2 separate regions of the Homo sapiens genome follow, and region 2 is linked to region 1. Evidence: fine-mapped expression QTL. A gene starts in region 1. The other region holds a variant in brackets. All regions are shown on one strand. Distances are from middle to middle.

What was found. PIP is the estimated chance that this variant, and not a neighbour inherited with it, causes the effect.
Region 2: its variant is fine-mapped to the expression of COL6A5 in lung (TOPMed, PIP above 0.99).

What each region holds. Positions count from the first base shown.
Region 1 is chr3:130,343,199-130,348,589 of GRCh38, reverse strand. It overlaps COL6A5 (collagen type VI alpha 5 chain), which reads right to left and starts at 2,918. Exons shown (of 41, transcript NM_001278298.2): 1 at 2,609-2,918.
Region 2 is chr3:130,438,355-130,443,745 of GRCh38, reverse strand. It overlaps COL6A5 (collagen type VI alpha 5 chain), which reads right to left. Exons shown (of 41, transcript NM_001278298.2): 34 at 4,131-4,224; 35 at 2,921-3,580; 36 at 180-270. Among named protein-coding and RNA genes, the nearest start is that of COL6A6, 76 kb to the left of the region's middle. RefSeq lists an enhancer at 941-1,498. The variant G/A (reference allele first, on the strand shown) is at 3,260.

The DNA of each region.
Region 1 (5,391 bases):
CACACATGTTTATTGAAGCACTATTTACAAATAGCAAAGACTTGGAACCAACTCAAATGCCCATCAATGATAGACTGGATAAAGAAAATGTGGCACATATACACCATGGAATACTATGCAGCCATAAAAAAGAATGAGTTTATGTCCTTTGCAGGGACATGGATAAAGCTGGAATCCATCATCCTCAGCAAACTAACACAAGAACAGAAAACCAAACACCGCATGTTGTCACTCATAAGTGGGAGTTGAACAATGAGAACACCTGGACACAGGGAGGGGAACATCACACACCAGGGCCTGTCAGGGAGTTGGGGGAAAGGGAAGGGAGAGCATTAGGACAAATGCCTAATGCATGTGGGGCTTAAAACCTAGATGATGGGTTGATAGGTGCAGTAAACCACCATGGCACATGTATACCTATGTAACAAACCTGCATGTTCAGCACATGTATCTCAGAACTTAAAGTAAAATTAAAAATAAAAAAGAATGGTTCCTTGGAGAATGGCAAGTGGCAATGGTTGTGGGTAGTGAGTTGTGTGCATGTTAGGGAATAGGCCAGAGGAATTTAGGGAAGTATCATAAAGCACCAGGGATTGATGGGGCAACAAAAATGTTTGCAACTGCCACATGCACCACCAGTCAGCCCTTCCTCATAAAGTAGGCATGCATCTCGTTTTATCTTAGATCCCAACTTTGCCCAGTGCCCAACTCCTCTTCCTTTGCACTTTCCACTTGCTCAGTGTGTACTGGATCTGAGATCCTACAAGATTGACAGGGGCATCATCAAAGCAAACTGCAATACCAAGAAAAGTACACATTCCAAGTGAATTTGTGCCCTCCACTCTCAGAGCTGGAGGATTCTGAGTATATGCTCCGGGGTTGAAAATTCTTCCTTTTTGGAAGATGATTTGAACTTGAGGAAGGAAAATCACAACATGAAATACAATGCAAACAAGACATATGTGTCAGCCTTACACTTCATTATAGAAGGATGCTAAGCATATGCTCATTGAATACTTATGAACAATTTCTGCATGTAGCTATGATTCAAGATGGGAAATATTTACAGTGGCAAACTTTATTTTCACAGGCTCATAACATTGCTAGCAATGGCTCCCAATTTTACTGACATTTCCAAAGTTCTTTTCAAACAGAGAGGTGATTAGTTTTTGAAATCTGTGAAAAAGCCTTTTAGATGTTTTAACTTAATATATATATATAAAATAATTAAATATAAAATCATTGTATTGAATGTTTTCTATGCTTTAACATATTAATAATAGTTCAATATCATAACCACACAGGGTCCTCCGGGGAACTACTTTAAGATAATGCTAGCAGGTTCCCTATCAAAACCTTACATCCTGCACCCACCCATTGAAGAAAAGGGAAAACTGAGAAATATCTGCAAATAAATTTGCTCCAGAGTCTCCAAGTAAGTCAGCAGTGGATTTAGATTTCATATTTTAAGTTAAGCCACTGAAAGGAGAATAATAATAACAACACAAAACCATTCATTCGTCATCAAAGATTAATGGCTCAGGTTCTCAGCAGTGATGAAGAGCCTGCCTCATCTGAAGGAGTTATTTAAAAACTTGGGAATTATCTTCTCTACTTTAATTCATATGAAATCTCAGGATTCCTACTTATTCTATTGGTAAATTGTAGCACTGTAAACTTAAATAGAAAAAATGGAAAAAAATCTTGCAGTGTGAATTTTTTCTTAAGGATTTTTGTTCAGAATTCACAAAGTAAATATATATCTTCCAAGATACCTAACCTGACACCCTGAGTTAACAATGATTAATTTCAGAACAAGCAGTTGAATACCAAAAAACAAAATAAATGTGATGTATGAAGCACTACATCAACTTATGAAGATCCTGGTAAGAGAAATAACACGCTACCAGCTTGGGGATCCTGAGAGTACAAAATTCCCTCCAGCACTTTGAAAGAACCTTACCTGGAGACTTGCACACAGTACAAACTCAGAAATAGTTGTTGAAGCTCTGAGTGCTGTTCTTAGGAAATCTCAAAGATCACAGTTTCGTTTGGGACAGAATAGAATTCCCACAAACCAAGAGTGTTTAGAAGTTATTTTTATAACTGAATACACCCCAGTATCTAATGCCTTTGACTCATTACCTACACACCCATTGCTGTTTATTTGGGGGTTCCTGCATTGGGGCTAGGGGCTCAAATGTAGGACTAAGTGACTTCTAAGGCAATGGTTCTCAAACTTTAGCTGCATCAGAATCCCGTGGAGGATTGTTAAAATACACATTCCTTATCCCCATTCCCAGAGATTCTGGTTCAACAGGGTTTTGTGGGGTCCAGGAATTTGCATTTCTAACAAGTTTCAAGGGCAAGGCGATGCTATTAGTCCTTGCATCACACTTCGGATAGCACTGCTCTAAGGTCCTTTCGAATTCTGAGTCTACCTTTCAGAACCTGTCTTAACCATCTGTAAAATTCCTTAGAGCTCAGATTTGGGGGCGTCAACAGGTGCAAATCACCAGAAAGGAGAATCCTTCTCACATCCACCTGTCTACTCGAGGTTTCCTCCCCCGCCTGCCTCAGGCCCCAAGTCCCCGCACCGCATACTTACCCAGCTTTCCCGGGGTCAGGGGACACTCCGGACCCTGGAAACCGCCCCCAACTCTCCAGAAGAGGCTGCACCGAGCTCCTGAGCGCAGTAAACGCGCGCCTCTCGGGCGCCCGCGGCGCAGTTGGATAGAGCGCGCGCCGGAAGCCCTGGTCCGCGCCGCACGCCCTGGTCCGCGCCGCACAGCTGCAGGTGGATTCCCGCAGCGAACGCCTCGTGCCCTGAGAGGGTCTTTTAAGCCGGCGCTGACCCGTGCCCTTGGCCTGGCTCTTCCCTGGGGCTTTTAACTCTTCACAAGTTTTAATGTGAGTGTCCAGAGACGCTCCAGCTGTTTGCTGGCTTTGTTTCAGAGAAGCCGCCGGCTGCCAAATGAACTTAGGGAGTCAGAATTTCTCAGAAACCAAGGGCAATCTTTACTAGCAGCCGAGCTGCGGTCACTTCTACTACTTAGACAGAGGAATCGCCATTTGGCTCCAAGTCCCCCAATTTCTCAGAGGCAGCCTCCCAACGAAAATGCCCAAGGAGGAGCAAAGTCCTGGGGGAAGCCCTACAAGAGAAAAAGTAACGCACCCCTGATGCTAGAGGCAGCAGGAGTTTTATCCAGCAACTTCTAGAAAGGGCAGGATGGGGAAATGGAGCAGGCAACACAATGAAGTTGTGATTTTTAGTACATGGATCATAGTGAAGAACTTGGAAAGCATAGACTATTCTTACATGCATGGCTTATTTTTTGTTGGTTTGCATGGACGTGTACTCAGGTTGAGATTTTATATTACATATCTGTATAACACCTGCCAGTAAATGTACTCCTAGCTTGAGTGGTTAAGTTCAATCAATCCATTGCTTCAGCCTGCTAGCTTCTTCAGGCTGTCTGTGAAGAGATATGTTACAATTACTTACACTGATGAAAGTTTATTAAAATGTCAAGAGGAAACATAAGACATGGGAGCTCACCCTTGCTCAGCAAGAACCCGATTCTGAGATTGCTTCTGAAGTTAACTAGAAAGTTTCTAAATATGTGTTAGAAAGAGTGGGTTGGAAGAATGAAGAGAGGGAAGTGTAATGAGGACTTTCAGGATTTTCTCCTTTTATTATTAAATTTTTTTTTTTCAAAGAGAACACAAATATGTGTAAACCAAAAACTGTTTGTTTTTTTTGTTGTTTTTCATTAATAAGAAAAAACTGATGTAAGTTGAAAATGGTTTTTCTAAAAAAAAAGTGTATTTTATCTATTTTGAATTCACTTGGAATAGTCAGGGTTATGGGGTGTTCTGCACAGAACATCCTGAAATCCTGGATTTGAATGCCAAGACTTGCCCTTCGGTATCAGTGAGTCTCAGATTTGTCCAGGTTTTAACGGAAAATGTTCCATTGGTCACCAGAGTGAAGCACAGAGAGAATCTATGGGCTGGAATATCAAGAAGCTAGAGTCTGGGGGGACAAAATATACATCTATTTCACATTCATGCCTGGCCCAGGCCGAAATTTTGCTACTATGATGTCCACATACCCTCAGTGTGTAAAGATTTATTAATTGAGATGTTCTTCCCCAACCAAGAGTAATGCCCCAAGGGAGAAAGAAGGCCTACTTTATACTTCAGGAGAAGGGTGGGGTTTTGCCTTCACAATTAGGGTAATATCCAAATAGTACTGAAGCCAAAAGGAAGTTGTGGGTTTGTGTTTTGGGGGTTCTTTTGTTGTTTAGAAACTTCTCTAGAAAGTATTATTGTAGAAATTTTTTTACTTGCAATATATTTGTGATTTAACTTTCACAATCATGAAATAAAAGTGGCTCCAGGAATCTACAACTTTTCCACAGATTTTAACATTTCCTTTCCTTTCTTCTGCTTATAAAATTGAAACAAGGTTTTCCCAAAATAAATCATAATGTGAAATTTATTCACTATTTAGAATTGCATTTATTCTATTAAGGATATATTAACTTAATTTACTTCAGAAAGTAGAAGTTTGGAGTTTAATATCTGAAGGAATTCAGGCACTAAAAGTGCCAACTTTTCAATTTTCTAACAGAATAGAACACAATTGAACTTACTTTATCTGACTTGGGTTTCACTTTCCATTTTCTCTAGAAAATAAAAAGATATTGAATAAAAGAAAAGTAATCCAGAATTTCAAAAGTGTGGAAAAGACATTAAATTTTTTTTCAGGCTTCATCATTAGTTATATTTGCCTTTTATTAACCCAACCTTCATAATCTGTATTTCTGCAGCTGTTTTAAATAAGAAGATAACATCAGAGTAAAAGATAGCAAATTCTGCTCTACCCTGCACTCGTTGATTCCCACTGGGAAATATTGATGGTATGTCTGCAAATGTGAAAACCGTACTATCAGAAATAGGCAAGATGATTTTGGATGTGAGATGATTTAAATGGAATATGATTAACTTTCTCATTGATGCAATCAGAACTATTAAAAGATAAAATAGCATTTTTCTTACATGTGACTCAATGTCCTTTGGTCATGCCTATATACCAACAGATAAAAAGTTAACAATTAAAATGCATTATCGATAACTGAAGCCAAATACTTTCCTCTCTGTGTACTAAATAATATTGGAATATAGTATACTTTACTTTCTCTATGTTTAAGCCATGCCGAAAATAAGCAAAAATGACTTAGCTACTTGCTTTAAGAAATACTTGCTCCTAATGGACAAGGCTGTGACTAATCAAAGTGGCTTACTTATCTATATCAACCAGCTTGCTCTAGAAGACTTGTTTCAACTCCTTCATCTCCCCGTGTCCAACAATTTAAAGCTATCATG
Region 2 (5,391 bases), 95 kb before region 1:
ATAAAAACAAATTGGAAATCATACTTGATATGTAATTTCTGCTATGGAAAATGGAATACATAAAATGTCTACTTCAGAGACCTTGTTAGCATCATCAGCCTAATAAAGTGTTATTAACCAGTTATACTCCCATCAGCCAATTAGCAGTCACTTGTAAATATAAGAGCTTTCTAACTTACTGGAAACCATCATTTTGAATATTCTCTCCTCCTAAATTGATGAGTCTACAGGCATCCTCAAGCATCGGTGGTGGGTACTGATTGAATCCCCCTATTGAGAGAACAAAGTTATAGTTAGATTTTAAAACTGGAAATGATGTTTCCTAGGTAAAGAGAATCCCAACAGGAATCCTCTTGAAGCAACTAATGTCACTAACATATTTCAGCAAAATTTGGCTGGGGTGAAAACAGAAAACAGCAGTTAGAAATAGCACTCAAAATTTGATTTCAGAGTGTTTTAGCAGCCAAAGGATTACCAGAGTCATGGAAACAGACCTCCTCAAATTGTTCATCTAAGAGCTAGTTGTGATGCAGGGAAACATGATTTTCACATGCTCAGGCTAACATAATCTAAGAGATACTCTATTCTGATTCATCAAAGGTTTTTCACCCAGACTTACGCTAACGGATCAAACAGAGACAAGGTAATGTTTCATTACTTGATACTGATATCATTTCTGTGCTTCTGCACCCACTAATACTGATTCCTATGAGGAAAAGAATCATAGACAAGATTTTACCTTACTGGTCTAAATAATATGCCTATTTATCCCCTTCCTGATGTTGTTCTATAAATTTTGGAATATGGAGAAGTATGTTACCCTGTCCCATTCTGGAAAATAAAAGATTTTAGTTAAAGAAGGCCTTCAGCCATTGACTGATCCAAGGATCTATGAAAATATCTCAAATAACATCTGTAGTTTTATAATAATCACATTTTCAAATACTAAGATAAGCATTTCTTTCCTTTTTTCTATTTCTTTAAAATGAAAATATATCTTCTGATTAATTGCATCTGACACTTACTGTTGGGTGGGCAAGAATTGTGATGCAGTGGTCATTGCCTGTGCATGTGGGAACAGCAAACATGCCAGCACCAAAACTTGTAGAATTGGGGAGAGCAGTTTGAAAACATTCCCATAAATACCAGCAGAGGAGCCTTTTCACTCCTACAAACCAAGTGGTTGTGGGAAGGCAGCGAATTGGGTGTGTTTAACACTTCCCAGCTGGAAGTCAACAGTAGGCTACTTCTACATGATTGCAAAGCCACTTAACAGCCCAGCATGACCATCTTTGAGTTGTTTTATAGTCTTTTACAAATATTGCATAATCATCAATCTTAATGGCACAAAGAACAAAATTGCATAGAAAAAAATGGATACCAATGACTCTGAGCCAAGAAGTAGCTCACAAGAGTCAAATTCTGAATCAGAAGTTGTTTTAGGAGTGCCTTAACCTGCCTATTTCACATAGATTTTCTTTTTATGCATGCACAGGAGTGATATATTTACTATACATCCAAAAGAACTCTTTCAATTGCTATAAAACAAAATGCTCTAATAGGAAAGTTGGTATCAAAATTTAATTGGAAACATTTTTTTCCTTTACATTATACAATTGAGGGCATCTTAGATGTAAAGAAATAACAGTGTTCCCAAGAGGGCAATTATTGGATTCTTTAATTGAATATGAATCACAGGAGAAAGGTGGAGCTCTCCTTGCAATGAAGAGTGAAGGCTCAAGACATTATCACTGTGGTGTTGTGGGGTGATCCTTTGAATAGCAAGGAAACTGGGATTGTAGAGTGGTGGAATTAATTCCAGCCAAGTTTACTTCTAAACCTGTCAGATTTCCAGAAAGAAAAGGTTCAGCTCTGATTCTGTGGGATATTATGGAGAAGTGTTTCTCAACATCAGTGTTATTGACTTTTGGGGATGTATTATTCTTTGTTGTGGTGGGGGGTCTGTCCTGTGAATTGTAGGATGTTTAGCAATATCCCTGACCTCTATTTACTTGATACTAGTAGCATCCCCAAGTTGTGACTGTCAAATAATGCCTCCAGGCATTTCCAAATGTCCCCTGGGGCAAATTGTGCCATATTGAGAACAATTGCTCTAGAAGAGCATTTTTCCAAACCATCTGTGATAGAGGACGAGGTATTCTTATTTCTAGTTCTTTGCAGACTGATACATCCTGTTCAATGAGACAGAGTCCACTGGTCATGCAACTGTACGCTGCAGCAATCAATGTCAAATTGCCTTAAAAGTTTCTAGATGTTTACTCTCAATTTGTGTGTTTATTTCTTTATACATCAATTTGTAGCCTGGCACTCATGCAATGAGCAACCCTTTGTAGTGCACTGGCCTAGAGCCATGTGATCCATGAACCAGCAGCATTGACATTACTGCAGTATCTGTTAGAAATGTAGAATCTCAGGCTTCACCCTAGATATCCTCAGTAAGAATATCCTGCATTTTAACAAGATTCCTGGGTGATGTGCATGCCCAGGACTTTGCTATCTTCACATCCTCACACAGGTCTCCAGGGTGTGCCAAAGTTGGAAATAAAACAGGTATAGCAAGTAAAACTTTTACGTGAATGTTCTTCTGAAATCACCTAACTGCTGCTAGAACTTCTTGAGCAAATGTGATTCATACGACCTCTAGTCACTCTGTGGCTTTCTAGTGCTGAGAGTTTGGCTAAAAGACACACTATCATAAAAAAAGGCCTCAGGCCTCACCATTTTGTGACCAGGATATAAACAGGGTATAACCAGCAAATGATCCATTCCTGCCCCTATCTCACCATCTAATTCATAAATTATGTTTAGATTAGCTATAGATACAAAAATAGGTTATCAATACTGTATTAACAAACACTAGCTTATTAAAAAAAAGACAAACAATGAAATAATAACTTACGCCTGACCGAGTATAAAAATGGCTTTAAGAACTTCGCAATATAATTCAGATCTGGTTTATGTATTCTCCCAAGCTGTATCAGGTGTTGATCAAGTGGGTAGCTGGCTAACTCCTCCATGTCATCCTTACGTGTAGAGCCCAGAGAAATCACAAATATGACGTAGCCTTGACACTTAGCCCTCAAAGCCATCATTTTTACAAATTCTTTTCTCTCATAATTTTCTCCAGCTGAGACCACAAAGATGACCTTGTGTTTTCTTAGATAGGGTGTTTCTGGAAAAAGATTTTCAGTGGTCCACAGTAGGGCACGACCAATTGTTGCTTCTCCATTTAGCTGTT[G/A]GAAGGAAGTCTGGATGTGATTCTTCATTAGGAGTTGGTTGTCATAAGTGATGAAATCAAACTCTGTTTTTACTGTACCCATCTTTCTCCTGGAACTTTCCCAAGGAGAATAGCTCAACAAAGCAATCCTATCACCAGAGTCTGAGATTAAAGGGTCTGAAGCAATGTTGAAGTTGTCAATCACTGAGCTCACCAAGGCTTTCACAGCCTTAAACTCATCCTTTGCTATATTCCGAGAATTGTCTATGAGGAAGACTACATCCATGTATGAATCTTCAGGTAAGAAAGCCTCTCGAATGCAAGCATTTGGAAAACATTTATCTGAAAACACACAGAGAGACACATCATTGGTTCAACACTGACCCAACAAGACACTTGTTTGAGATCTTCAAGTGACTCAGTGACTAATTACCAAGAATTATAATTTGATCAATATCTCTTTGATCTCACATAATTTAAATTAATGAGAAATTTTCAATGTCCCGGTACTTCTCCGGGCACTAGCAGACAATAAGGGAAGGGCTTTGTTGAAAGCAGATGTAGGTAGCACAGATACCTGCAGTGTACAAGTCATGTCCAAGCTCATTTAGGAAATATTTTTGATATTTTAGAGACTTCTGATACAAACTACCCAATTGTCCCCAAGAAATGCTACATTGGTTGGGATAATTTTCTAAACCAATTTTCACATTCTATGGAAACTCCAAACATTCCAGAGATTGAAACCATGACATATGGTATTGAAAAACTAGAAAACTGAAAATAGAACCTATGATTAAAAATAGAAATCTCTGGATAAAACCACATTCAATAACTCATCTAGAAGGCATTTAAGCTCTTCAGCACAGTCAATTCTCTTCATTGGTCTTACCATAGCAAAGTGCACAGCGCCGAAGTCTTTCTAATGTTTGATTTTCCCCATTTGGAGGAACTGGAATCACCTGAAATGTTCCAGTGTTGTCAAACTGCATTGGAAAAGAAGTGAACGCATGTTTGCTCATTGTTTTTAGTCACTAGTAGGAAACCACTTTAAGGATTAGTTTAAAAAACACCCAACTAATCACTATTACCTTGCATTATAGCTCTTTGCTCCATTCAGTGCATGTTCACACACACACACACACACACACACACACACACACACACAATCCCCTGCTTATCCCAAACATAACACAAAAAGTATCTATAGAACAAGTATCATCATCCCTAGATTATGATGAGAAAACTGCCATGAGATAACCTGACCAGATTCACTCACTGGGGCAAGTATTAAAATCTATCATTTCCAAGCCTGCAATTCTGGACTAAATTTGTACACACTTCTGATTATGCACCAGCTGATTATACACCACATGCCAGCTTTTGAAGTTGGGCCCTGCAGAAATTGTACGTTCCCAAGCTTCCTTTGGCCTCCGTGGGTAGTGATCCCAACTATTTCCAGTCCACTCTATCTAGAAGAAGGCACATCTCTCAGTTGTCAAGAGGACCCTCTCAATCACAAATTCCACTTAAAAGTCTATTTCAAAAAGCAATGGACAGAATTTTATTCAAAATTCCTGGTGGTACACTGTCTGATTTCTTATTTCCTGATTACTTTTTAAAATACTTTAATACTCACTGTAATGGGCAATATACAGCACTCATTCATTCATTCAGTGAGTCAATAACTCTTTATTGGGCATTTACTCTATGTGAGGCACCATGCAAAACAGATACTTTTATTATGAAAGAAATCTATCATTCCCAGGTGGTGAGGAGGCTATCTCTCCATCAACAAAGATGTTCATGCTTTTTCTCTTTCTCTCTGAGCAAATTAAAGGGCTAGAAAATCCAAACCCTCTGTTTTTCTGTAAAGTGCTGAATCAACATTGGAAAATATTTATAATCATTCCAGCCATATGTTTAGAAACTATTTACTACATTCCTACTCTCTATTTTTATTAAATTGGATGCTTTGGGTGTTATTTTGTATTTGACCTTGTTGGTCCCACATGTAAAGACTAGATGTTGACCTGGTAAACCAAGGAAGTTTATTCATAGGAGTAAACCCCATGCTCTTCATTCATTCATTCATTCATTCACTCATTCACTCATTCATTCAACAAATATTTATTGAATGCCTACAATGTTAT